Linked DNA regions of Homo sapiens: all the other regions are reported to be linked to region 3. The links are microRNA targets in miRTarBase. Many come from high-throughput screens and were not tested one by one. Region 3 holds a microRNA gene; each other region holds the end of a gene's coding sequence.

Region 1 (5,093 bases), not on the chromosome of region 3:
ATACTTAACATTTCCAACATTTCCCCATCTAGATTACTCTACATTTTTTCTGGATTTAACACTTTTCTTAATGTGTTGTATTCACCAACTACTAGACCAGAACTATAAAGAAACTGCAAAAATGGAGTTAACAACCCACTGCCTCCCCAAACCCATGGGAGACTGGGTTTGATTCTGGCTCTGCTTTAGGTATATGATCTTGATCACACCACAACCTCTGAGCCTCTGTTTCTTGAGGATGAAGGTTGGGGTGAGGGAGTGGGAGACTAGCTAGATTATCTCCAGGGTTTCTTCTTAGCACAATTCTGATTCTATAATAAATAGACAAAAGTGAATTGGAAAGGTAAGGGGAATGGTAAGGGGTAAAGTTAAGGGGATCAGGATTTTAAAATAACGATTTTCCCCTTAGCTTCTTAAAATATTTTCACATTTAAAAATCTTCAGGCCAGGTGTGGTAGTTATGTCTGTAATCCTAGCACTTCTGGGAGGCCAGGTGGGTGGATCTCTTAAGCCCAGGAGTTCGAGACCAGCCTGGGCAACATGGCAAAACCTCGTCTCTACTAAAAATACAAAAATTAGCCAGGTGTGGTGGTGCATGCCTGGAGTTCCAGCTACTCCAGAGGCTGAGGTGGGAAGATCACCTGAGCCCAGGGAGGTTGAGGCTGCAGTGAGCCGTGATAGTGCCACTGCACTCTAGCCTAGAGGACAGAGTGAGACCCTATTTCAAAAAATTCAAATCTTCTGAGTTAACTATTCACTTTGCATTTTAGTTTGCTTTCTAGTAATTAATGTCAGAGCGAGCTCCCAAAACCTTCAGCTGTTTCTTTGTATTCTTTTATCCAACTTGGCATACATGGCACCAACCTAATTGTTTTATTACAGAAAACAAGTATTTTCTCCCTAAATATCTTTTTCATAGATGATTAGACTTTTATGGAGATTAGAAAATATATAACAAAAGCTTGTTAAAAAAGTATGAATATTGCTGGCATATATCTGTAACAGCTGTTGTATACATGAAACAAAACTATTTTAAATTAAATGCCAAAAATAATGCATGTTAAAATGCATATTTAAAAACTTAGAAAATTTGACTCTCAGTTTGTTAAACTAACACCTTCCATTTTAACTAATAATAATTCTTGCACAAGAAATCTGTTGTAAGACCCTGAATGCAAGGCTTAGACTAAATGAAATGTTTCTTCACTGAGGTCAATTCACATCACCTAAAAGAATAGAAAACAAATGTTACAGGGTCATAAAATGTTAATGTGGGTATGTATACATACAAACATATATGTATATACATACAGATAAATAAAATCCTCTAAGATGAACTTTTTTTTTTTTTTTTTTTTTTTTTTTCAGAGATGGAGTCTTGCACTGTTGCCTAGGCTGGAGTACAGTAGTGCATTCTTGGCTCACTGCAACCTCCACCTCCCAGGTTCAAGAGATTCTCCTGCCTCAGCCTCCCGAGTAGCTGGGATTACAGGCGCCTGCCACCACGCCCAGCTAATTTTTTGTATTTTTAGTAGAGACAGGGTTTCACCATGTTGGCCAGGCTGGTCTCGAACTCCTGACCTCATGATTCACCCACCTCAGCCTCCCAGAGTGTTGGGATTACAGGCGTGAGCCACCGTGCCCGGCCAAGATGAACATTTTTTAAAACCAATTTTTCAGGTATAACATAAGATTTCTAGCCAAAGGAAAATTTTGTTGTATTAATTCTAACATTTGCTGTGATTTGGTATTATGTGGTATTTCTTTTGTGCTCTAACCAAAATCATGCTAGATTTAGATGCCAATAAATGCACAATTTGAATTGAAAACAGTCTTTTTACCTCCCAAATAATTTATGCCATAAAGTGACTGACCTCCAGCCATAGCCAAGATCTCACTTTCTTTTTTATTTTTTATTTATTTTTAATTTTTTTTTAGATCTCACTTTCTAGGTAAGTATAATGTTCCTTTCCTTACATACCTGAAACTGCCTGTTTTAGTATGTTATGGGCCTTTATAGCTCATTTATTTTGGCTATTTTTAAACTCCTTTCATTTATTTGACATCCCTTAAATTAAAAGAAAGGGTATTTAAAATATTTAAAATACAACTTTGTGATATATACATATACACACCATACACACACACACACACACACACACACACACACAGACACACACAAAACAATAAATTGTCTACTTATCAACTTTTAGCTTTACCCTGGACTTTGGCAATGTTGTAGATACTAGTTCAGGTTCTAGTTTTCCATTTTCACATGAGCTGGAAAAATGTTACAGACCACCATATTTAAACAAGCATCTCATATATAAAGAGTCTAACAGAAAGTCTCTTAGGGAAAAAAGAAAGTCCTTACAATAAAAACGGGAGGATTGCTAGGTGTGAAAAAAAAAAAGGCGTTTTTTCTGGTTATTTATCAAAATCTATTGTAATTTTAATGGTAGAGATAAAATTTTAACTTTTGCTAATTAGGAGAATACTTGCTTTCTATAAATTCAGTATATTTTTCTTAAACAATAATCAAGTAAAAACATCTAAATGTACAAAGCACTGATAGCTCTGATGTATTCTGTGGAAGGATAACTTATAACAGTTTAAGTCACAATACACTTTTTTAAAACCCAATATATTCCCTTCTTTTTCAAACATCAGAGCCTGAGACCCAGAAAAGTTATGATAAAATCTTATCCAACCAGATCAGAACTAAGGAAATTTTTTTTACCAATAATGTTTTTGTAACCTCTTAGCAGTTACCAAATGCTACTTACATACATTCAACATCTAGCTTACTGGCATGATATCAAAGTTTTATAAAAATGAGGAACTGCAGATATATGATTAGAAGGTACACAAATTGCATTACATTAAACACAAAGGCAGTGTGGTCCTTGTAGGAGAAATCAAGGTCAGTACCCCCTGGTAGAAATGTTCTATAAAAATGTGTCACATTGAAGTATCAGTGTTTCAGCCAATTGTCTGTCCCTGATATATTTCCTTGGAGTATGTAATGTATCAGGACTTTAGGTTTCTTAATCCAAAATGTCTGACTGAATTTAGGTACATCTAGAAAGCAGCTGAAAGGGTTTCTCTTATAGTCTGACATAACAGAAAGTAGATTGAGAAATCCCTCTCTTTACCTGAAGATGTACTGTTACACTTCAGCCATCAGCTCACAAAGGAAAAGAAGAAAAAAAAATCAAATCTCCTCTCACACACACAATCTCCACAAAAGCTAAACAAAAACTACCCCCCGCCCCCACAAAACCCCAGCACCAAAGTGTCAATCATTCCTGGGAAATAGAACATGCCCCTCAGATTCTGATTTGTTAGTTGGCCAAACTTGAAGGACAGAAATGACCTTATATGTCCTTGTGGGGAAGAGGGAAGACACGTTAATAATGACTATACAGCCATTGAGAAAGTGCATTATCAATTACACAATCAAGAGTCCTGCCCTCCAATGGAGGTGGTCACAACTTGATTTAAATGCCTCCGTAATTGAACATTTATGTCTTCGGGATAAAGGAGATGGGGGGGTGGAGAAAGAGCTACCCTCATTTTAATGAAAAAGTGCAGCAGTCTACCACCTTTCCCCATGCTTCTCCAGAAAATGATTGCACAGACTCAGAGAAGTCCAAAGTCATAGCAGAATCTCTGAGGCACTCCTGGTTAAGAGAAAAAAATATGATCCAGTAATCTTCATAGTTCTATAGATTATGAGAACAAACCCGTTTTGTTTTTAAACAAAAGCCAAAGAATCGTTTCATAGGGATCATATACACCATTTCCTCTAATGTACCCTCAGTCTCACAGTGTTGAAATGGGACCGATCAGCCTACGATGGATTGCACATCACCCAAGGAGAAAGGAAGGCATGGAAAAGGCAACCATTTTATACTGCTTCACAAACACATTTACAAGGGATAGGTGAAGAGAAGATGTAGGAAAGAGGGATAAAGAAAACCTTATTGCTGTTTTGATACAAAATACAGTATGAAGATACCTAAACTAAATGAAATCTGATAACAGTGACCAATATTTTCACAATGTGGGATGAAGTGTCTTCTTGCACAATGAAATGTTCAGTTTAAAAGGTAAGCAGAAAGATGAGGGAGGATGTCAAAACTACACCTGGGATATTAGCTGCATATTGAAACTTGGGGATCGAGACTGCTTGGTCAAGGGGGCTCCTGGGCTGAGGAGCTCTTTACCTTCGCCAGCTTGACCTAGCCGGTCTTCCTGCAGACTGACAGTTGAGTATCGATTAGCATTGTTGGCTGCTAAATTAGTACCTCCCTCAGTGCCAACCCCAATGCTGGTACTTGCTTGACTGCCATTTACATAGTCAAATGATTTACTTGAGGAAGCACTGGCTGTCCGGATTAGACTTAAGCTATTGATTTTTGGCACCACCTGGCCAGCAGGCAGGCTCAGGTGTTTCTTCATTGGTGTCAGCTCAACTGAATCTACACTAAGATCAGTTGGTTGCTGTACATACTGCTTGCGAACTACTGAATCTCGAGGGCTCTCACTGGATTTGATGGCAGAGGCTGTTTCTTTATCCTTGGCTGAACGCCCAGTTGCTACTTTCCTTAAGCTTCCCCTCTGAGAAGAGGAGGATGGTTTGGTCCCAATTGGCTGACTGCTGAGGGAAGCCCCTGATGAAAATCCTTCATCTGCATCATTCAGGTTTACAGACTCCTCTCCTCCATTTACACCCTCAGCACCTAAGAAAACAAATCAGACAGACTCAGCAATAGCTAAATTAAATAAGAAGCAGCTGTGAATAACAACACTGACCTTATCTCTTGGGCAATGTTCGCTATAGGTTGTCAATGGCCCTACTATCAACACTTCCCCTAAATAATTTAGGGGAAATCTTAATCTACACAGAATTCTACTATGCTAATAGATGTTAGTTTAGCTTTATTTAGTCCAGTTTTTGTACAACTATCCACAAACATATCTAGTATACTGTCAATATTTAGGCATGTAAAACGACTAGGTAAAATACAACAGTTTGTTAACATAAATTTTTATAATACACTATCATTCTTCTTCTGAAATGACCATAT
Region 2 (5,103 bases), not on the chromosome of region 3:
TGGAGGTGGGGGGAGGGAGGAGGAAAAGAGAACCAGGGAAGCACCCCTCTCCAGTCCTGAGGGTCCCCACCCACTCGCTCAGCGCCCTCCCTCTCTCCCTCCCTGCCCAGGAGAGAGCTGCGAGGACAAGAGCCCGCCAGGCCCAGCATCCAAGCGGGTACGCACGGCATACACGAGCGCGCAGCTGGTGGAATTGGAAAAGGAATTCCACTTCAACCGCTACTTGTGCCGGCCGCGCCGCGTGGAGATGGCCAACCTGCTGAATCTCACGGAACGCCAGATCAAGATCTGGTTCCAGAACCGGCGCATGAAGTACAAGAAGGACCAGAAGGCCAAGGGCATCCTGCACTCGCCGGCTAGCCAGTCCCCTGAGCGCAGCCCACCGCTCGGCGGCGCCGCTGGCCACGTGGCCTACTCCGGCCAGCTGCCGCCAGTGCCCGGCCTGGCCTACGACGCGCCCTCGCCGCCTGCTTTCGCCAAATCACAGCCCAATATGTACGGCCTGGCCGCCTACACGGCGCCACTCAGCAGCTGCCTGCCACAACAGAAGCGCTACGCAGCGCCGGAGTTCGAGCCCCATCCCATGGCGAGCAACGGCGGCGGCTTCGCCAGCGCCAACTTGCAGGGCAGCCCGGTGTACGTGGGCGGCAACTTCGTCGAGTCCATGGCGCCCGCGTCCGGGCCTGTCTTCAACCTGGGCCACCTCTCGCACCCGTCGTCGGCCAGCGTGGACTACAGTTGCGCCGCGCAGATTCCAGGCAACCACCACCATGGACCTTGCGACCCTCATCCCACCTACACAGATCTCTCGGCCCACCACTCGTCTCAGGGACGACTGCCGGAGGCTCCCAAACTGACGCATCTGTAGCGGCCGCCGCCAGCCCGAACTCGCGGCAAAATTACCTCTCTTGCTGTAGTGGTGGGGTAGAGGGTGGGGCCCGCGGGGCAGTTCGGGAACCCCCTTCCCCGCTCTTGCCCTGCCGCCGCCTCCCGGGTCTCAGGCCTCCAGCGGCGGAGGCGCAGGCGACCGGGCCTCCCCTCCATGGGCGTCCTTTGGGTGACTCGCCATAAATCAGCCGCAAGGATCCTTCCCTGTAAATTTGACAGTGCCACATACTGCGGACCAAGGGACTCCAATCTGGTAATGGTGTCCCAAAGGTAAGTCTGAGACCCATCAGCGGCGCGCCCTGCAGAGGGACCAGAGCTTGGAGAGTCTTGGGCCTGGCCCGCGTCTAGCTTAGTTTCAGAGACCTTAATTTATATTCTCCTTCCTGTGCCGTAAGGATTGCATCGGACTAAACTATCTGTATTTATTATTTGAAGCGAGTCATTTCGTTCCCTGATTATTTATCCTTGTCTGAATGTATTTATGTGTATATTTGTAGATTTATCCAGCCGAGCTTAGGAATTCGCTTCCAGGCCGTGGGGGCCACATTTCACCTCCTTAGTCCCCCTGGTCTGAACTAGTTGAGAGAGTAGTTTTGAACAGTCGTAACCGTGGCTGGTGTTTGTAGTTGACATAAAGGATTAAGACCGCAAATTGTCCTTCATGGGTAGAGTCAGGAAGCCCGGTGGCGTGGCACAACACACTTTGGTCATTTCTCAAAAACCACAGTCCTCACCACAGTTTATTGATTTCAAATTGTCTGGTACTATTGGAACAAATATTTAGAATAAAAAAATTTCCCAGTCGGAACTGTATCTGTGTTAATCATGCACACTTGCAAGCAGATCACTATGCCTTTATCTCGCACAATCCCCATGGAAGGCCCCGAAACAGACTGACACTTTGAAAAAAATATTTTATTTATTTGGAGTCTAGTGCATAAATTGGTTCTCGGGATACTTGATTACTTTCCAGCTATTGAAATTAGGGGAGGGGGAAATGAGGATGCAAACCTAAGAAGGTTCTGGGCGGGATGATTTGGGCAGGGCTTTTTGAAAGCAGCGCCTGCTTTGCTGTTTTTACTGCCTTCTTTCTAGACACAATCGACTTTTACACTGGGGAGACCAGAGCTCACTTTTCTGCATTAAGTAACAAAAAATAAACTTTGAAAGAAAACTGACAATCAAAGAAAAAACACAAGAGAAGTTGTAAGAAGAATTGAGCTATGAAAAAGCTAAGGTGTAGAAAAAGAAACCATCATTTGGAGACGCGTACCTAAGCTTTTTCTCTAGGAAATGCTGTCATGAATTCTTCCTTTGTAGTGATCATTAGTTCATTTCTAAAGAAAACAAACATTCCCCAAGATGTAAAGTAATAATATTTCATTAATGAAACATAACAAGTATAAACACCTTGTTTACTCCTGTTTCTTATACAAAATGGGCAAAAATGTCTTCAAGGATTTATAACCATTTTGTAAATATTAATGTGGCTTCTGCTAGGGGTGGACAACTTCCCGGCTTCTATGGGAGGGGCCACTTAGAAAACGCCTTCAGATAAGGTTCAATTCTTTTGTATTTCAGCAAAGTCAGCCCACGCATCTCTATTTGGTTTGACAAATAATGCAACTCCTACTACATCCCCGATGACACGAAGTGAAATTCCTATTGTGTGGAAATAATTTAACTTCTAATCTTCTGGTGGAACAACAATCGTTTCTATTTGGATGTTTGTATTTCACTAAGTAATGATGGCTCAAAATAATATTTAGTTTCCTTGTTCCTTTGTGCTGTTTTTAAAATGGCATGTTAGATTTGGGGGTGGGAGGGGATATCCTTTTGCTAAATTTCACTTTATCTGAGCAGGTTTAAAATATATATGTTGTAGAAGTGTATCAACAGAATAAATGACTTCAATCGAAGGCACATTTTACCCACTTTCAAGGCTTAACATTGTTTTCTATGAAATTTGCATCCATAGGCAGAATTTCTAATTGTCTTGTAAGAAATTATTTTTTAAGCTATTAGAGAAATCAAAGGAGAGCTCACTGCCTTGCAGGGATTACAACCACCTTTCTTAACTGGCTAAATATTAACTAGCTGAATTGTCAGGCTGCTTAGATTCAGCCCGATTTTCCCTCATCTCCTCTTCCTACCATAAATAATAATAAAAATACGTAATGTGTCATGGCTCCAGGCGTTTTCCAGCACAGTGTGTTACCGCAGGAGTATCTGCTGAGTCTGCGGGTGTCTGCAAAGCCCCAAGTGTCATTTGCGGCTTAGGGTTTCATGGATTAGACTTTAAACGGTGTCTAGCCCGGCTGACATTAGCTTCCTCTCACACTCAGGCTCCAAGGAAGTGTGGGATCAGGGGCTCCCTCTCCAGGCAGCCACAGCTTTCCCCGACGCCCTCCTCTCGAGTGGGGTGAGGGCTTGGACCAAATCTGCCACCTTCTGTCATCTCTGGAGGTTCCCGAGACTTCTAATAGCTCGGATCTGTTCCTGCCATTGGCGTGAGACTCATCTGAGGGGCGTGGGTGGGGGTGGGCGGCGAGCCGGGGGAGGGCGCGTTTCCGCGCGGCTGCCAGCCCAGGAGAAAGTTGGGGCCCGCGGCACAGCCATTTAAAACTTCATAAATTATAAACAAGCCGCCTTGGCCTTCGCAATAAATTCCGCTCCTTTTGAGCCTGCAATTAGTGTTAGAAAGCAACCGAGTCTAAACACAACCAAACGCCCTCTGAAGGGCCCAACTGCCTGAGGTTGCAAACCTTTATTTCCCAGCGCCACCCCCTCTCCGACTGAGGTTTGCACACACAGTCGCCTCCTCCCCCGCCACCGCCGGCGGTACACACTCGGCTGGGTTCCCGCTCTGCAAGGGAAGGTCACAATAGCTGCTCTATCGGCTGCGGAGGCGCCTGCCGCCTCCCTCCCGAGTCTCAGAAGCAGAAAAACAAGAGAATGGGGGAGGGGAGGCCCCAGCAACAGCGCCCTTTGCGGGAGGCAACCTCCACCCTAGCCAGGGTCTCTCTCCTGGGACGAGTGCTCGCAGAGGGTTGCGGGGAGGGCAAAGGGAGCGCACCAAGACCACCAGGCTGCTCCAGGCCTTGCCGCAGGGCGCTGGGTTGAGGGTGCCCGGAGCAGCCGCGCCATTGTGTGTCAGGTTTTCCCACGGGATCCGTGATGGGGGAGGCCATATAAAGGGAGCTCGGATCCGGGCCTCTCCGGCATTGGTCTCTGGGAGGGTCTACCTCGTTTGCCCAAGGGGAAGAAATGGCTCTGTCTCAGGCCTTAGCCAGCTCTGCTTTTTTCCTAGAGACTACTTTGGGGAAGGTGGGGATCAGGGAGATTGTGGGTCCTCCTGGGGTCTGAAGAAAGGGGTCAGGGCAGGATCTCAGGCCCATGGCTGAGGGGTGGCAGTCGTCTGGACATTCTAGGTGGTTCTGTCCAGGCAATCAAATATGAATTAAGGCAGGATAGCTGTGAGGCAGCCAGAATGGCCAGCTGCAAAACGGGAGGTGGGGGTGGGGAAGGAGATGCAGACAGTGAGAGCTTTCCCTGCAACCAAGAAAAACTCAGGATCCAGCCAGGAGTTGAAGTGCTGAGACCCAACTGAACTAGCCAGGAAGAATGGGGAAGTGGCAGAAGAAAGGCCTGGAGAGTAGTCCTGGTCACTGGTAAGCAGGTCAGAAAGGGCGATTAAGTACATATTCTGTCTCCTGGCTTTCAGACCTCCACCTTATCCAGGGACCTGACAGAGAAAAATCTGCCTCTGATGGAATCATTAAGTTAACCATCCATTTGTACCATTTCTTTGTACAGGCTTTCAAACGAGAGAGAGGAGAGAATACAGGAGGAGAATGTTTCCCCTTGGTGCAGCCCCAAGCTCCCTATCAGAGACACATCAGCCAAATTAGTTTCCGAGGCTCACAGGCTGCTAACATTGCTGAACAAGATTTTTCGAATTTCTATGTGTTAGGAGTATTAAAAGATAGTGATTACCTATACTAGCAGCCTTTGTCCCTTTTCTCTTCCCTAGTCTGTACCAGCCCACTGGCCCTTGAGTGAAGTGCATCTTCTCAGCCTGCGGACTTGGGAGCTCAGGCTCTCCATCTGTTGAGGTTTTTCATTAGGGAGACTACAGAGGATGTGTGTGGGTGTGTGTTTGAATAACAAAGAAGTAACCCTTCATTCTAATAAAAGTGTTCCTCTGCTTGACCT
Region 3 (5,103 bases):
CAAGGCCCGTCTCCGGACCTAGCCGCCTCCTCTCCCACGCCGTCCTAGGTGGTCGCGCGCTCCGCTTCGACCCCACGGCCTTTGTGAAAGCCAAGGAAAGGAAGCAGAGAGAGATCCAGATGAAGTCAGTGCCCCTTCCTCCCTCACCTGCCCCTGTCCCTGGCCCGTGCCCGCTCCCGGGCTCTCATCTCTCCACGCCACCATCAGTCTCCATCCCCTGCCACCTGCTCGCTTCTCGCCGGATACCCCGCCTGCTCTCCCTTCCGTCCGTCCTACCTCCTCGTCTGTGTTTCTGCGTGCTTTCCGCTCGTAGGCCTGTCACCTCAGGCTTTCGCTGGCGTGGCTGTGACCTTTAGGGGCGCAGTGACCCCCTTGCCTGCAGGAGTTGGGCGTACAGACCGGCGTCTCCTTTCTTTTTTCCCAGGCAGCAGCAGCGGAACCGCTTAGGCAGTGGGGGAAGCGGGGACGGTCCGTCCGTCTCCTGGTCTCGCCAGACCCAGCCCCCTGCTGCCTTGACTGGCCGAGGGGACGCCCCTAACCGCTCCCGAAACCGCAGCTCCTCAGGTAACTGGCCTGGAGCTGGGGGCTGCCGGGCTAGGCGGGACTGGGCGGGGCTGGGCGGGCTGGGAGGCACTGGGCAGGGCGGGCGGGCTGGGAGGGCCTGGGAAGCACTGGGCGGGGCCAGCGAGGGCCAGCGGTCACGCCCTCCGTCTCCCTCTAGTGGACAGTTTCCGCAGCCGCTGCTCGTCTGCCAGCTCCTGCAGCGATTTGGAGGATTTCTCTGAGTCGCTCTCCAGAGGGTAAAACTTGAACTTGGGAAAAGGATCGCCTCCAAAGGGTTTCTGGGGAGACTAGAAACAGTCTTTTGCAGGGAAATTGGGTGATGGAGCCTGGGGGCCTTGAAACCACAAAGGTCGGGGAGGTGGGAAGTACCAGAGCCTCCCCACCACTGGTCCTTGGTTACTCCTTTTTCTCAGGGGTCACCGCCGCCGTGGGAAGCCTCCCAGCCCAACGCCCTGGAGTGGGTCCAATATGGTGAGTAGAAGGGGCAACATAAACCACTGGAACACAGCTGCCCCCATTTCCTGTGATTCCTTCCTGGGGATCAGGTGCAGAGGCGACTCTGAATGCCTTTGGCAATAGGGCTTTTTTAAGAGTGCGTCTCGCTCTTTCAGGCTGGGGTGCAGTGGGGCAATTGTAGCTCACGGCAGCTTTCAACTCCTGGACTCAAGAGACCCTCCCACCTCGGCCTATGGAGTAGCTGGGACTAGGCTTTTTTGGGGGGGCAGGGTGGGGTTGAGACAGGATAAGGGGGTGGTATTGTCTCTTTATGTTGCCCAGGCTGGTCTGGAACTCCTGGCCTCAAGCCATCCTCAGCCTCCTACAGCGCTGGAGTTACAGGCTGGGCCAGCGCACCTGGCCTGGGAACAGCACGTTTTGAGAGCATTAGATTGGAGAAGGAATAATGAGGGGCACGTGATGCTCTTTAGGGCTTTGGCTTCTGACTGTCAGGTCTTGAAACCTGTCTCCTCCTCTTCCCAGCTGTATGGTTCAAGGCAGTTCTTTAGCCTCTCTGTACCTTAGTTTTTGTTTATCAGTTAACCAGGGTTGGTAATGGCATCACCTCACATGTGAGGTGAGGGCTCTGTGAGGACATTAGGAGGTTATTTTGCAGATAATGAATGGCCAGTAGGTGTCAGGCCTTATTTTTCCCCAAGGTCCTTAGGCTCAGGATTTCCAGTGGGATTTAGGGGGACAGAAATAGAGGGACGGTGGGTGACCCCCTTTCCTACCTTCCCCATCACCAGAAGTCTCCCCCCGTGGAACGCAGCCACCATCAGAAATCTCTGGCCAACTCCGGGGGCTGGGTCCCCATCAAAGGTGAGCCTGGGACTCCACATCCCCTCTCCCAGCCCCAGGACCCGTTGGAATGGTAGTGCGGGCAGTGGTATATTGGGCCCAGGAACTCCCTGGGGCTTCAGGCCCCTCACAGCCCCCATACCCACACCTGCTCTCACAGAGTACAGCTCGGAGCACCAGGCGGCTGACATGGCCGAAATAGACGCACGCCTGAAGGCCTTGCAGGAGTACATGAACCGACTGGACATGCGGTCATAACGTGGAGAAGGGGTACTACCCCTCCATCCCCCACCCACTTGCTGGGTATGGTGTGGGGGGTGGGGCCAGGGTGGCCTCCAGCCCTGCCCAGTCCCTGCCCTGGCCCCGTCCCTCCTGCTGCCCCTGGGGTCTCAGGTGTGTGAGGCCCTGACCCTGCCCTCTCCCCAGGCAGTGCATGCTGGGAGGGAGGATGTGTGCATTTTGTAAATAAACATATTTGCCCTGGGGACCCCTCAGCTTATGACTAAAGGGTGAGGGTGGAGTGGGGAGAAATGTGGAGGAAGAGAAATTGGGGGGTATAATTGGGACCTGTGTGTCTGTGCCTCGGAGGCAGATTGGGACTCAGGCCTAGGAAAAGCTTGTACACTCTCTAAACAGTGCAAGGGCAGACCTGGGAGGAGTAGTGAGCAGCCCGTCCCTAAAGGAGTCCAAGCAAAGTTTCTGCGCAGGATGCCTTTGGCTGTGTGGTGGGAAGGAGGTGTCTTGCAGCGTGGTTCACTGCCCAGGAGGACCCCCAGGACCCACTGTTGGTGACATCCCGGCCGCCTTGGTGCTGATTCCTGGGCTCTGACCTGAGACCTCTGGGTTCTGAGCTGTGATGTTGCTCTCGAGCTGGGATCTCCGGGGTCTTGGTTCAGGGCCGGGGCCTCTGGGTTCCAAGCACCAGTGAGGAGAGTGCTGGGAGGGGAAGGGGTGGGAGGGCTTTGGTCTTGTGGGAGGGAGAGAAGGAGGGGAGGTGTGTGGTGGGACCTGCTGAGGAACACATTTTGAGCTACATCTTTATTGGAGAAGGAGACAGTGGGGTTTTTGGCCATGGGAGGGGAGGAATGGGGTGCGGATCAGCAGGGCCTCAGGGGGAGCGGTAGTGTGGCCAATTCTGGATGAGGTGGTAGAGCTGGTTGCCTGGAGAGAGTGTACGCTGCACATCCCGGTGTCCTTTGAGCACATAGTTGGACCTCAGGGCTCCCTGAGCCACACCGCAGGCCAGTAGACCCTGGGCTGCCCGGATGGCCTGGGGTGTGGGCACCCGATCTGGAGGAGGCAGAGGTAGGAGTCAGGCAGGGGCTTCCCCGAAGGGGAAGTGATAGCGTAGGGCCCCGTGTCAGCCCCCATCCCAACTGGCTGGACAGTCACTCACCCATGTAGTTGCCCATGAAGCTGATGCCAATGGACATGGGGTTCCATAAGTGACCTGAGTGGGCACCCGTGAAGTTCCAGCCACGGCCCTCGTATACGAGCCCGTCTTCTCCAATCAGGAAGCTGCATGGGGAGGTGGGGGGGCTTGATGAGTGAGGGAGGGTTTCCCGAGGAGGACTCCTCCTCCTTCCTCCACTCACCCTGCCTCCGTTACTGCCGTGGTGCACACAACTTCCCCAGCATCCTTCTCACCCGTTAATTTCCCACGATAGTAACAATGACTGTGGTCATTTATTGGGCCCCTGCCATGTGCCAAGCACAGCTCTGCATACACCTTTTTCCATCCTCACAGCAACCCTGTGAGTCACTATCACCCCCGTTTTATATAGACAGAATCAGAGCGGTAGAATCACCTGCCCCGGGGTCACACAGCCTGTCTGGGGCACAGCTGGGGTTTTTAACCAGGCCTCCATGGTCCCCACCCATGTGATCTTGTGCGTTGCTCTCTCCTGCCTCCCTAGAGGATTTGTGGAAGTCCTGTTTTACTGAATCCTTGCAGGACAGCCCTCTGAGGCAGAGACTTTTTTTTTTTTTTTTTTTTAAGACGGGGTTTCACTCTTGTTGCTCAGGCTGGAGTGCAGTGGCGTGATCTCAGCTCACCGCAACCTCTGCCTCCTGGGTTCAAGTGATTCTCGTGCCTCAGCCTCCTGAGTACCTGGGATTACAAGCATGAGCCACCACACCCGGCTAATTTTTGTATTATTAGTAGAGATGGGGTTTCACCATGTTGGCCAGGCTGGTCTCGAACTCCCGACCTCAGGTGATCTGCCCGCCTTTGGCCTCCCAAAGTGCTGGGATTACAAGCATGAGTCACCGTGCCCAGCCAAGGCAGGGACTCTTATCATCCTCATCTTAAGCAGAGAGAGCAGAGACTCAGAAAGCGACATAATTTGTACAAGCTACTCAGAGCCCCCTGCCTCTCAGAACTCTGCCTTTGCCCCAGCTTGCTTCCTGCCCTCGGGGTCCACTGGGGGACAGGATCACAGACTCAAAGTTGGGGTCGTAACCAGATACCGACCCTGGAGCCCCAGCACCTGCCTCTTTGAGGTTCCCAAGCCTGGCAGCAGATCCTTAAGGCTGATTCATTCAGCACATCTGATTGAGCGTGTCTGACTTGGCAAATGGGAATGAACTAGAAGATCAGTGCCTTGGAGCTGCAGTATGTGCCAACTCAGCCCCCGCGCTCACAGTGTCATTAATGACGCACAGAATGTCGGAACTTCCGAATCTTGAGTCCCGAATCTGCTGCTTAGGAAGCCAGCTCCCAGAATCTGGCCCCAGTGATGCTGGCTGCTGGGACTGGCTGGTTATGGCCCTGCTGGTGATGCTGGCTGCTGGGACTGGCTGGTTATGGCCCTGCCATATTCCCGGAGCCTGGCATGATGGTGCTGGGGTCGGGGGTGGTTGGTTCTCCCTGGTCATTTGTTGCATGAATGCATCTCATTGAAACCTCAGCCACCATCGCCAAGCGGGTACAGTCAGAAGCCCCATTTACAGGTGAAGAAACGAGGCTCAGAGAGAGAAGGTGACGTGACATGGAAAGGGGATTCAGAACGTTAGAACCAGATTCGGAATCCTAAAAGCTGAGGGCCAGACAGCGGCTGCTTCTGTATGTGGTGATGTGGACCCGAGGCTCGGGCCTTCGTGACCTCATGGGAACACTTAGGATCAGAGCGCCTGAGTCTTGGAAACAAAATGTTGAAGTTGGAGTCTTTGATAAAATCTTGAACTGGAAGGGCTGGGAATACCTTTGGACACTTCTAGACTTCTCTGGGTGGGTTTTGTGTG
Region 4 (5,103 bases), not on the chromosome of region 3:
ATTAAATAAAATGGCATGATTTCTGGAATACACTAATGCTCCTTATCTTAATTGACTTTGGGAATGAGCCTTTACATGAGTTTTTTACCTCCCTGGATCATTTTGAAAAGGTGTAAAATGCTTCCAGAAACGATTTTGTAGAACTAAACAGATTTCATATGTTGGAGAAAAGCCTGACAAGAGGAGGATTGGGTTTTACCAGATTTTTCTATTATAAGAAACTTGCATGATTTAAATATTTTCAGTATGTCCTTTGAGGAAAAAAGCAAACACAGTGCTACCCAAATCATTACTAAATGTCTCTCATTTGGTTTCTCATGTTTCTCTCTCTTTTTCTTTTCTTTGCAGTATTGACTTGAAGCTGAAAGAAAAGCCTTAGTTGGCCATGCTGGAAGAAGAGGATGCTTTTCTGGTTCATGGTTCTGTTGAAACATATCTACCTGAAAGAGACAGGGCTGATGTTACCTTTTTCCACTTTGCACTACCTGGTGCCATTCTAAATTTCTAAGGGGAAAAATAGAAAGTTTGTTTACTCTTAAGATATTTTATGAAATTGTGTGTACTTTCCTATTTTGCCAATTATGTGCCTCAAAGATTTTAGTTGAGCCTTAGCAAGAAAGTAGGACCTTCCATTTCAATACTTCATTAACACGGTGTAGTGATACTTTGTCCCTTAGACTGGTGTTTACCAGTAAGATACCTTTAATCCACTGTTAAGTATGAGTGGATTTGTTTCCATAGATTAGCTGGATTTCCTTTTGGTGATTGCATTAGGTTTAAAGTACACAGGTCTCAACTCTCCCCAGGAAAGTTTCCCCTGTTTGACTCCACCTTTAAAATCCTAAGCCTGACTAGGACAGCCACAAACCACACAAGGTGTAAAACCATCATCAGCTAAGTGCCCGTTTTGTTCTTGTTTACCAGAATCTCCTTTAACTTCTCAAAGGGAAGCCGGGCTTTCTAATCCACGTCAACTTTATTTTAGTTGTCAAATTGGGCATTATATTTTATGTAAATTGGTCTTTTAACATCATTTTCCTGATGAATGTTGGTGACCACCACATTGTGAAATTTAAGAATCCGTGTTGCATGTTTGGTAGCTCTCTGAGTTTCAGGCCATAAACTCAGCTCCAGAGGTTACCTTTTAAGTGCCAAGAACTCAAGTGCAAGGTGGCCTACTCAAAAATCATTTGGTAGCATTCAGTTATTCATGAATTCCTCTCTCGCATGCATTATAAAAAGTGATCTGCTTTAAAACACCGTAATCTGATCATAGGCTTAAAATTAAATATGAGTATTACTTTCATGTACAAAATATTTCCTTTATAGTCTTCATATGCCCTTTAAAATGCCAACAAGATTTCAAGTCTGTAGGCCTCTAGTGAGGTGGGGTGGCAAACCACAGCTAAGTCTCGCTCACCACTGCAAGCTAAGAATGGTTTTTACATTTTGGGTTGGAAAAATTTTTTTTGAATATTTCATGACACATGAAAATTATTCAAATGTTAGTGCCGATAAATAAAGTGGTACTGAAACACAGCCACACAAACTTGTTTTTGTACTGTCTACAGCTACTTTCACACTACAGCCGCAGAGCTGAGCAGTTCAGCAGACCGTATGTCCCACAATGCCTAAAACATTGACTATGTTTACAGAAAAAGTTTGCTGACCCCTGCTCTAGCAAACGCATCCTTTCCTACTCCACCCCAATTTGTATTTAGATAGTTTCTCTAACAGAACGGACAAATGAGGCTGCAAACTAATTTATTTTTGTCAAAAATCAATGTTTTGACATCCACAGACAGTGAAATAAAAGAAATGGCTTGCTGAAAAACATGAGGAGTCCTAGCCACAAAATCACTGCTTAGGTTGCAATTGCCAAAATGAAGCCTTCTTAGAAGCACTTCTTTAGTATATACAGGTGTTGGCTGAAGTCCGTGCCTCACTCTGGGAACCATTCTTAGTCTCCAGTGTCTCCTATTACAAAGAAGCTGGCAGAAATAAAAATGAAGGGGTGAGAGCGGTTCCACCCTAGTCTCATGGTGGAAAATTCATTGGGGAGAGCTGTCCAGGATATTTGGAGTCCTGGGTAGAAGGAGCTTGTAACTACTTTAAAGTCGACATCTTTGCACAGGTGATTGAGTTTCTCTGACCTCATTGCTTCACCTCTGTCTCCTCCCGTCCTTCCGCACGTGCCCACACACACGCAGTTCAGCCCTCTTTCCTCCATAAGCCTCCATCGTTTTCTCTTTTCTCCTCTTGATCCTTTCAAGCGAGTATCTTGTTGAATTGTATGTTCTGTTGGATCTCCTCCTTCATAACATCTGGCTTGTTGGACAGAAAAACCCTACAGCCCACCCCCTCCCACAGCCCACCTCCACTTTTGAAAGCCCAAATTACACCTCTCCCAGAACACAGTGTTGACGTAAATACAGTTACCCAATATTCCTGTTTGTTCACCTATTTGCTACTTTCACTCAGTAGCATCCCATTTTGTAAAATGAATTCCATGGTCACCCTGTCACAGGAAGTAATGAAAAATCCAGTGTTCAGTGTAGTGGTGCAAACCTGAGGGCATAGAGCTGTTCATAGAGGGCTCTTGTTATAGCCAAACAGACACAGCAACAATCTCACCATTTATATATATATTTTTAACTTGTCCAGCTCATCTATGGAAAACTACTCAGGTGGTATGCTGTTTGAAGCCTCATCTTCCTACATGAAAATTATGGGCATTTGTCCCAATGATTTTGTTTCAGCTGTTCTGTAGGCTGCATAACCACTCTGATATTTAGGTATCTGCTATTTTATTATCTTAAAAGACAAATTAATTTAATTGCATGTGCTAGGGAAAAGCTACCATGTACATTCACCCCAAGTAAATAGAATCCTAGATGAATCCTAGAAAAATAATCCCTAAGCAGATAGGTAGACAGAGGTAAACATTCACATGATTTAGCTCTCTAGCTCTTGCACTCTGAACATTCTTGCTTTGGTTCTGACTTCTGGGAACTGCTTTGCATTTCTCCTATAGATCTGTAGTTAAGGGAACCAAGGGGTCATTGGGGCAAAAGCATTGTTTCTCAAAGCTCCTTGATTAAGAGAAAGAACAGAAATTTGCACAGAAGATAGTGTCAAGGAGTGAGAAAGTTTGTTTGAGGGCAGTAGCTCAGTGTGGAAGAAAATCCTGAAGTTTCTGTTGAAGCCATACAATGTTCTATGGGGTTACTCTCTAAGACATTCTCTGAGGTGTGTGAGGAAGTCACTACTCCTAGCCTTTGTTAAGATGTAATTTTAAATATTCAGTTATGGTACTATGTTTGCAACTCTCGTCTTATCACAATGCCTCAGTAGTTTGTTCCCTTAGAAACATTTAGATGTGCACAAATTAATCTTTTATATATCTAAAGGTTTTTCTATCATGCATTGGATTGCTCAGAATAAAGTGTCTGTTAGACTTCGTTTTGGTAAATAAATTCTCCATAATGTAGATTAATAATATAAAAGTCTTTAATGACACAATATATCTATATAGCCTCACTGTATAATTCAGAAATAAAAATTGATTCTGCATGTGATGGTTTTCTTTCTTTGAGTCAGCAAGAATTTTTCTCTGGCTTCACTTTGCAGCAGTTTTATCTCAACATCAATCTAGCTTGGCACTTGGTACTGGAGGACTGTATACATTTTGGTTTTTCTGTACACCCAAACTTTATTCTCTCTTCATTTTTGCCTTTCCTATCTCAGAGTTCAATACACCGAGCTTTCAAACTGTTGTTTACTCTGTGGATAAGCGATTTCTTACTTTGGAAACATCTCCATGTTTCATGGTTACTTGATTTTTGTCTTTTCCTCTCTCTTCCCCTTGCCTTTTTATGGCATATATTTATTTTTAAATTAAAATGTTTAAATATCATTTTATTTTTAGTTGGGGTTTTTTCCCCATTTTCACAACCTTCAGGCAAAACCAGAGTTGAGAATTACCACTGTGCTATTTTTTTAACTTAATAAACACATGTGTACCTCTGAGAAAGTTGTTGGACTAGCCAAAGGAGAAATTGCTCTACAAGAAGTGAGACGTTGCATGTTCTCATGATCTAAAAATGAGTTCTGGTAGATATTGTCCTCTACCCAAGAAAGGGAAGAAACAGAAGAAAAGGCTGACAAGTAATTGCAGGCAAAGGAAGGACATTCAACTACAAGACGTACTGCTACATTCATTCTGCTCTCGTACCTAACTATGGTGGTGGAAACTGGAGGTGGGCTAGGTGTCCAGCACTAGGGAAAGGGCTGGGTAAATCGTGCTGAATACACCTTTTAGTATACCACAGCTGTGAGAAGCAACATACTATATGTTCATAAAGCAACACTTAAATCATAGGGTAGAGCGGAAAAAGAACAAACTCGATGTTTATAGCACAGTGCCACTTACATAACTGTTAAACATACACACACAAAACTACGTATTATCCAAAATCCATGTGTATTTAAGGACTTAACACACTCATTTGGGTAAGGGTAGGGCATGGAGATCAGTGATAAAGTTGGGAGCCTAATTAAAAATCAAAATCATAAGGGGCCTTTTATAAGCTGAAGTTAAAAATAAATAAAATGAAGACAACTTCAGTCGTGGAAGCCAAGACTTTCAGTCATAGATTACAGAAAAGCTGTGTTGGGGCACTGTGGATCCCTGAGGAGCCATTCCCTTCTACAGCTTCTCTTGTGTGTGCAGTGTCCCTGTGCTGGCTGTGTCCATGTGCTGCAGCGTGCCAGAAGCCCGCCCTGGGTTGCATCATCCTGTGCAGTCATGGAACTTTTAATTCAGAGCTGGTGCCTTTTGACACATCAATCCTCACACAGCTGTGGGCTTTACGGAGCAAGCAGATTGCCTCACGAGCCTGATTTTCCTAGATAGTTTCATTCACATCCATTCAAAATAACCCTCTTTAACTAGACAAAATTATTTCTTCTCAAGATATAACCATTCCAATGATACTTAGACATTAGACACCAATAACTGCTACCCATGATCTCTCTAGCCTTACCTCTAGTGAGAGACCTATAGCCCTTAACACTGGATCACGCTTTCCTTGTGAAACTTCC
Region 5 (5,103 bases), not on the chromosome of region 3:
GAGCCAGTACCTCTTGCTCCTGTTGGGCTTCACATTTATTATTCATCTGATCTGCAAGCCTTTGAAGCAAGAGATTTTTAGCATGCCTTATATTTGAGGAAAACAGGCTTGGAGAAGCTGCATGGCTTATGGTGTACAGTTGAGGTTCCATCCCTTTTCTGTGAACCTCCATTCTGAGCATACGTATTCTTGGGCCTGCACAAAGAGCCCTGGGAAACTGGCCTTGCTTCTTGGGGTAACAGGCCTCTCACTAGGCCTGCAGGCAGTGATGTGTTGGCTCTCGTCAGTAGGTGGGCCAGCACGGGCACTCATCAGTAGAAGATGCCACGACAGCCATGGAGCTCTACCGGCTGGTGGAGGTGCAGTGGGAACAGCAGGAGGCCCGCAGCCTCTGGACCTGCCCCGAGGACAGAGAACCTGACAGCAGCACAGACATGGAACAGTACATGGAGGACCAGTACTGGCCCGATGACCTGGCCCACGGCAGCAGAGGAGGAGCCAGGGAGGCACAGGACAGAAGGAATTGAGAAGGGGGCGGGGCTCCCTGGCTGGGCTTCCGGTGTGGCCGGTAGGAAGTGGGGGCCAGGAGAGCAGCGGGCACTCCTTCCTGGGCAGGGTGGGGCAGGATGCAGTGAGCCAGCCCCAGGGCCAGAGGAGTAGGGGTCATCTGTTACCTTGACACCCTCTGCACACAGCATAGCCCTCTCTCTCTCCAGGGCTGTTGGTTCTTTCTTCTGACTCCTGTGGTTTTGCTAATGGCACTTTACAGACTCCATGGAGATGTCAGGTGGACCATCTTCTAGGGCCCAGCAGGAGTAGGGAATGTGCCAACAGACTGCCCAGGTTGCCGTGGCCTTCCCCACCCCCCAGATCTCCTGAGTCATCATGCTGTGCTAATGAAAGGGATCATATCATCCTCTCTGGGGATGGTGGGTGGGGGTGTCAATATCCTGGAGCTCCCTTACCCCAACTCAATGACTTGGGGGTAAAGTTCTCTTCCTTTTGTTGCCTACCTCTTCCTCCACTCATTTGGGTTCAGAATAAACATGTCCTGAAGTTAAAGAGGAGTTAAGTCCTAAAGGAGGCATTTCTTCCCCACCTCCCTGACCTGGAACTCTGGCTACAGCCATTGTAGGAACTCCGTGCCTGGCCTGTCAGCTCCCTGCTAGGCTACAGTGGAATAGCAGAGCCCACAGGCTTCTCGTGGGGAGTTGGCTCCTTAACATTTCTTGGCAACAGAAAGCCCCAGGCACAGCTCAGGGAGGAGGGAAGGCAGGTAAGCTTTGGACGAGAACTGGCATATTTATTTTGACCCAAATCAGGGATTTCCCCAGTCCACCCAGTACTGGGCTCTTAAGCAAAAGTCTGAGAAACAAGACAGTGGTTTGAATTCTGGGGCCTTTGTGTAGGATTGTGCCTGACCTTTATTTATTTATTAACAGCAGGGCCACTCGTCTAGGGCAGTGGAGTCTGCGTGTCTCCTGGGGCTGGGGCAGGGCATTGGCAGTTACGCAGTGGCCCTGAACCTGGTCTGGTGCCCCCGAACCTGGTCTGATGCCCCCTCAGCTCTTTGACAATCACTGTGGCTGTTGGGTTTTCTCCTATTTCTAAAAATGTTCTCTTCTTTCCTAAGTGACAGTTTTGAAGTATTGGATAACCAAGAGCTCAGGTCACACAGACCTTGGAGCCCCATCTTTGCTTGCAGCTTAGCTTTGAGATACTAAGCAAGCGAGGGACTTCACTCTTGAGGCTGTTTTTTCCTCATCTGTAAAGTGGGGATAGTGGTACGGCCTACCTCATAGGGTTGTAATGAGCACTAAATGTGAAGTGCTTGGCACAGTGCCTGGCACATGGTGAGCCACAGCTACTGTGAGTTTCTGTTTATCCCCCTTTTTTTTTTTTAAGCCCATTGTTTATTCTTTGAGAATTTGTTGTAACTTCTTCAGGATAACACCTGAGTCCACAGGCTGAGCAGCTGTGGCCCAGACAGAACTGCTCCGGCTTGGCTGTTCCAGCAGGTGGGGCGCTGGCCTCGGTGAGGGCACAGCAGCAAGGTTCACGGATATCCGTGTGTCTTGTCTGTGGCCACCAGGCACAGGTTTGGCTTCCGGTCAGTGTCCCGACACTGTGCGGGAGGTGACAACAGAGCAAAGCAGCGCAGGGGTCAGGGAGGTACAGACACTGCTGAAATCACACTACCCCACCCTCAGCTGAAGCCCCACGTTCCACAAACTTGGGGTCATAGATTGTCCAGTCACTGGCTCCCTCCCTGTCAGCACAGCACAGAGGAAGGGGCTAACTGAATCTTTTACCACTTCTGGCCTGGCTCCAGAACTTTGTTCTAGATTCCTTAAAAGTCGGTAGCTGATGTCAAACTCAATTGAGCAGTAGCTTTGATCCCTTGGTCTGGGGGTCGAAGGAAGATGGTGCTGTTATCAGCGGGGAAATGTACTATTTAAGATCAGCTTTGTTGTAAAACCATTTGTTCTAGAATAAAACTCAATTGGAAACGTGGGTGAAGTGGCCCTTCCTGTGAATTCTCAAGCTGGGATTGGAGGGTGGCTCATTGGGGGTTTGGGAGGGGGACTGGGGCACTAAGCCTTGCTGGGTGCTTTGGACTTCGAGAAGGCAGTTTTCAAGAGGATGCAGTGGGCTCCAGCAAGAAACTAGCAGAGCTACAGAATTTAGATAATTTATTTCTTATTGCCCTATTACAGAGCACAAGTTTTGTGTTTTGTTTTTTGTTTGAGACAGGGTCTTACTCCTGTTGCCTGGGCTAGAGTGCAGGGTGCAATCATGGCTCACTGCAGCCTCGACTTCCCAGGCTCAGGAGATCCTCCCACGTTGGCCTCCCAAGTAGCTGGGATGACAGGCATGCGCCACCCCGCCCAGCTAATTTTTTTGGTATTTTTAGTAGAGACGGGGTTTCACCATGTTAGCCAGGCTGGTCTCAAACTCCTGGACTCAAGGAATCCACTCACCTCGGTCTCCCAAAGTGCTGGGATTACAAACAGGAGCCATCGCACCTGGCCATATTTGTTTTAACTTTTTTGTTTCTCCCTGAAGCTATGTACTCACTTAAAAAAAGTTTTTAATTGTAGTAGAATACACATAGAAAATTTACTATGTTAACTACTTTTAGTGTACAGTTCAATAGTGTTATGTCTGTATCCACATTGCTGTGCAACAGATCTCGAACTCTTTCATCTTGTGAAACTGACACTTTCCATTTCCCCCTTTTTTCTTTTATTCCTTTTTTTTCTTGAGACAGAGTTTCACTCTTGTTGCCCAGGCTGGAGTGCAATGGCGTGATCTTGGCTTACCACAACCTCCACTTGCCGAGTTCAAGCAATTCTCCTGCCTCAGCCTCTCGAGTAGCTGGGATTACAGGCATGCGCCACCACGGCCGGCTAATTTTGTATTTTTAGTAGAGACAGGGTTTCTCCATGTTGGTCAGGCTGGTCTCGAACTCCCGACCTCAGGTGATCCCCCTGCCTCAGCCTCCCAAAGTGCTGGGATTACAAGTGTGAGCCACCGCGCCCAGCAATTTCCCCCTTTTTTCAACCCCTGGCAACTACCATTCTACTTTCTACTTCTATGAATTTGACTAGATAGCTGATACAGGTGGAATCATACAGTATTTGTCACTTTGTGACGAGCTTATTTCACTTAGCACAGTGTCGTCATCCATGTTGTGGCATGTGTCAGAATTTTATTTTTTAAGAGACTCTTGCCCAGGCTGGACTCAAACTCCTGGGCTCAAGTTATCCTCTTGTCTCGGCCTCCTAAGTAGCTGGGACTACAGGCATGTGCCCCCATGCCTGGCAACTATTTTTTTTATTTTTTTTTTTAGAGACGGGGTCTCATTATGTTGCCCGGGCTGGTCTTGAATTCCTGGCCTCAAGTGATCCTCCTGCTTTGGCCTCCCAGCATGCTGGGATTACAGGAGTGAGCCACTGCACCTGGCTAGAATTTTCTTTTTAAGGCTGAATGATCTTTTGTATGTATATACCATGCTTTGTTTATCCATTCATCTGTCAGTCAACAATACTTAGGTTACTTCCCCCCTTGGCTGTTGTGAATAATGCAGCTATGAACATGCTGAAAGTGCTCCCAAGTGTACAAATACCTCTCCAAGACCCTCCTTTCAATTTATTTGAATATATACCCAGCAGGGGAATTGCTGGATTATATGGTAATTTTTTTTTTTTTTTTTTTTTTTTTTTTTTTGAGACAGAGTCTCACTCTTGTCATCTAGGCTGGAGTGCAATGGCGCGATCTTGGCTCACTGCAACATCTGCCTACTGGGTTCAAGCTATTCCCCTGTCTCAGCCTTCCAAGTAGATGGAATTACAGGCGCATGCCACCACGCCTGGCTAATTTTTATATTTTTAGTAGAGACGGGGTTTCACCATGTTGGCCAGGCTGGTCTGGAACTCCTGACCTCAGGTGATCCACCCGCCTCGGCCTTCCGAAGTGCTGGGATTACAGGCGTGAGCCACCGCGCCTGGCCTATAGTTTTTTTTGAGGAACTGCTGTGCTGTTTTCTTTAGTAGCTGTACCATTTTACATTCCCACCAACAGTGAACAAGGGTTTCAGTTTCTCCACGTCCTTGCCAACATTTTTTTCTGTTTTTCCATAGCAGCCATCCTAATGGGTATGAGATGATGTGGTTTGGATTTGCATTTCCCTAATCATTAGTAATATTGAGCATCTTCTTACATGCTTTTTGGTATACAGTTCCTTTTTAACTAATTTTCTTAACATGTGTTTTGTAATATGTATCAGCATAGTTTTACATGTATTAAACCACATGAAATTGCTAATATTCTAGTTTTTTGCTTTTCGTTTTTGTTTTTGAGACAGGGTTTCACTTGTCACCCAAGCTGGAGTACAGTGGTACAGTCTTGGCTCACTGCAACCTCAACCTCCCAGGCTCAAGTGATCCTCCAGCCTAAGCCTCCCAAGTATAATAGCTGGGACTACAGGTGCATGTCACCATACCTGGCTGATTTTTTACATTTTTAGTAGAGACGAGGTCTTCTATGTTGCCCAGGCTGGTCTTGAACCCTTGGGCTCATGGGATCTGCCCACCTTGGCCT

Evidence for each region. Region 3 holds the annotated microRNA hsa-miR-769-5p (UGAGACCUCUGGGUUCUGAGCU, at 2,692-2,713, shown strand). A microRNA usually pairs through its seed, bases 2 to 8, with sites in the 3' UTR of a target mRNA and lowers its output. Matches are read on the target gene's strand: a 7mer-m8 pairs with bases 2 to 8, a 7mer-A1 pairs with bases 2 to 7 and ends in A, and an 8mer does both.
Region 1: the mRNA of HYCC2 is a reported target of hsa-miR-769-5p. Seed matches in the 3' UTR shown: 7mer-A1 at 2,675-2,681 and 7mer-A1 at 712-718.
Region 2: miRTarBase lists HOXD3 as a target of hsa-miR-769-5p. Seed matches in the 3' UTR shown: 7mer-A1 at 994-1,000.
Region 4: the mRNA of PRUNE2 is a reported target of hsa-miR-769-5p. Seed matches in the 3' UTR shown: 8mer at 788-795.
Region 5: miRTarBase lists AEN as a target of hsa-miR-769-5p. The part of its 3' UTR that is shown has no 7-base or 8-base seed match.

The regions. Positions count from the first base shown.
Region 1 is chr2:200,977,127-200,982,219 of GRCh38, forward strand. It overlaps HYCC2 (hyccin PI4KA lipid kinase complex subunit 2), which reads right to left. Exons shown (of 13, transcript NM_001321623.1): 13 at 1-4,745. The coding sequence ends at 4,144. All of the region lies in intron 1 of LOC105373835 (a long non-coding RNA gene), which reads left to right. Among named protein-coding and RNA genes, the nearest start is that of ORC2, 16 kb to the left of the region's middle.
Region 2 is chr2:176,171,407-176,176,509 of GRCh38, forward strand. HOXD3 (homeobox D3) reads left to right here. Exons shown (of 4, transcript NM_006898.5): 4 at 111-1,692. The coding sequence ends at 868. It overlaps HAGLR (HOXD antisense growth-associated long non-coding RNA), which reads right to left. Exons shown (of 3, transcript NR_033979.2): 3 at 1,783-5,103. Among named protein-coding and RNA genes, the nearest start is that of HAGLROS, 4.2 kb to the right of the region's middle. RefSeq lists an enhancer at 215-825.
Region 3 is chr19:46,016,270-46,021,372 of GRCh38, forward strand. It overlaps MIR769 (microRNA 769), which reads left to right and starts at 2,663; the gene lies at 2,663-2,780. It overlaps CCDC61 (coiled-coil domain containing 61), which reads left to right. Exons shown (of 14, transcript NM_001267723.2): 9 at 49-124; 10 at 425-564; 11 at 722-800; 12 at 978-1,035; 13 at 1,809-1,881; 14 at 2,021-2,347. The coding sequence ends at 2,118. PGLYRP1 (peptidoglycan recognition protein 1) reads right to left here. Exons shown (of 3, transcript NM_005091.3): 2 at 3,257-3,378; 3 at 2,884-3,150. The coding sequence ends at 2,969. RefSeq lists a silencer at 594-653.
Region 4 is chr9:76,609,846-76,614,948 of GRCh38, reverse strand. PRUNE2 (prune homolog 2 with BCH domain) reads left to right here. Exons shown (of 19, transcript NM_015225.3): 19 at 349-3,573. The coding sequence ends at 379. All of the region lies in intron 5 of LOC105376095 (a long non-coding RNA gene), which reads right to left. Among named protein-coding and RNA genes, the nearest start is that of PCA3, 150 kb to the left of the region's middle.
Region 5 is chr15:88,629,768-88,634,870 of GRCh38, forward strand. It overlaps AEN (apoptosis enhancing nuclease), which reads left to right. Exons shown (of 4, transcript NM_022767.4): 4 at 291-2,514. The coding sequence ends at 527. Among named protein-coding and RNA genes, the nearest start is that of ISG20, 6.7 kb to the right of the region's middle.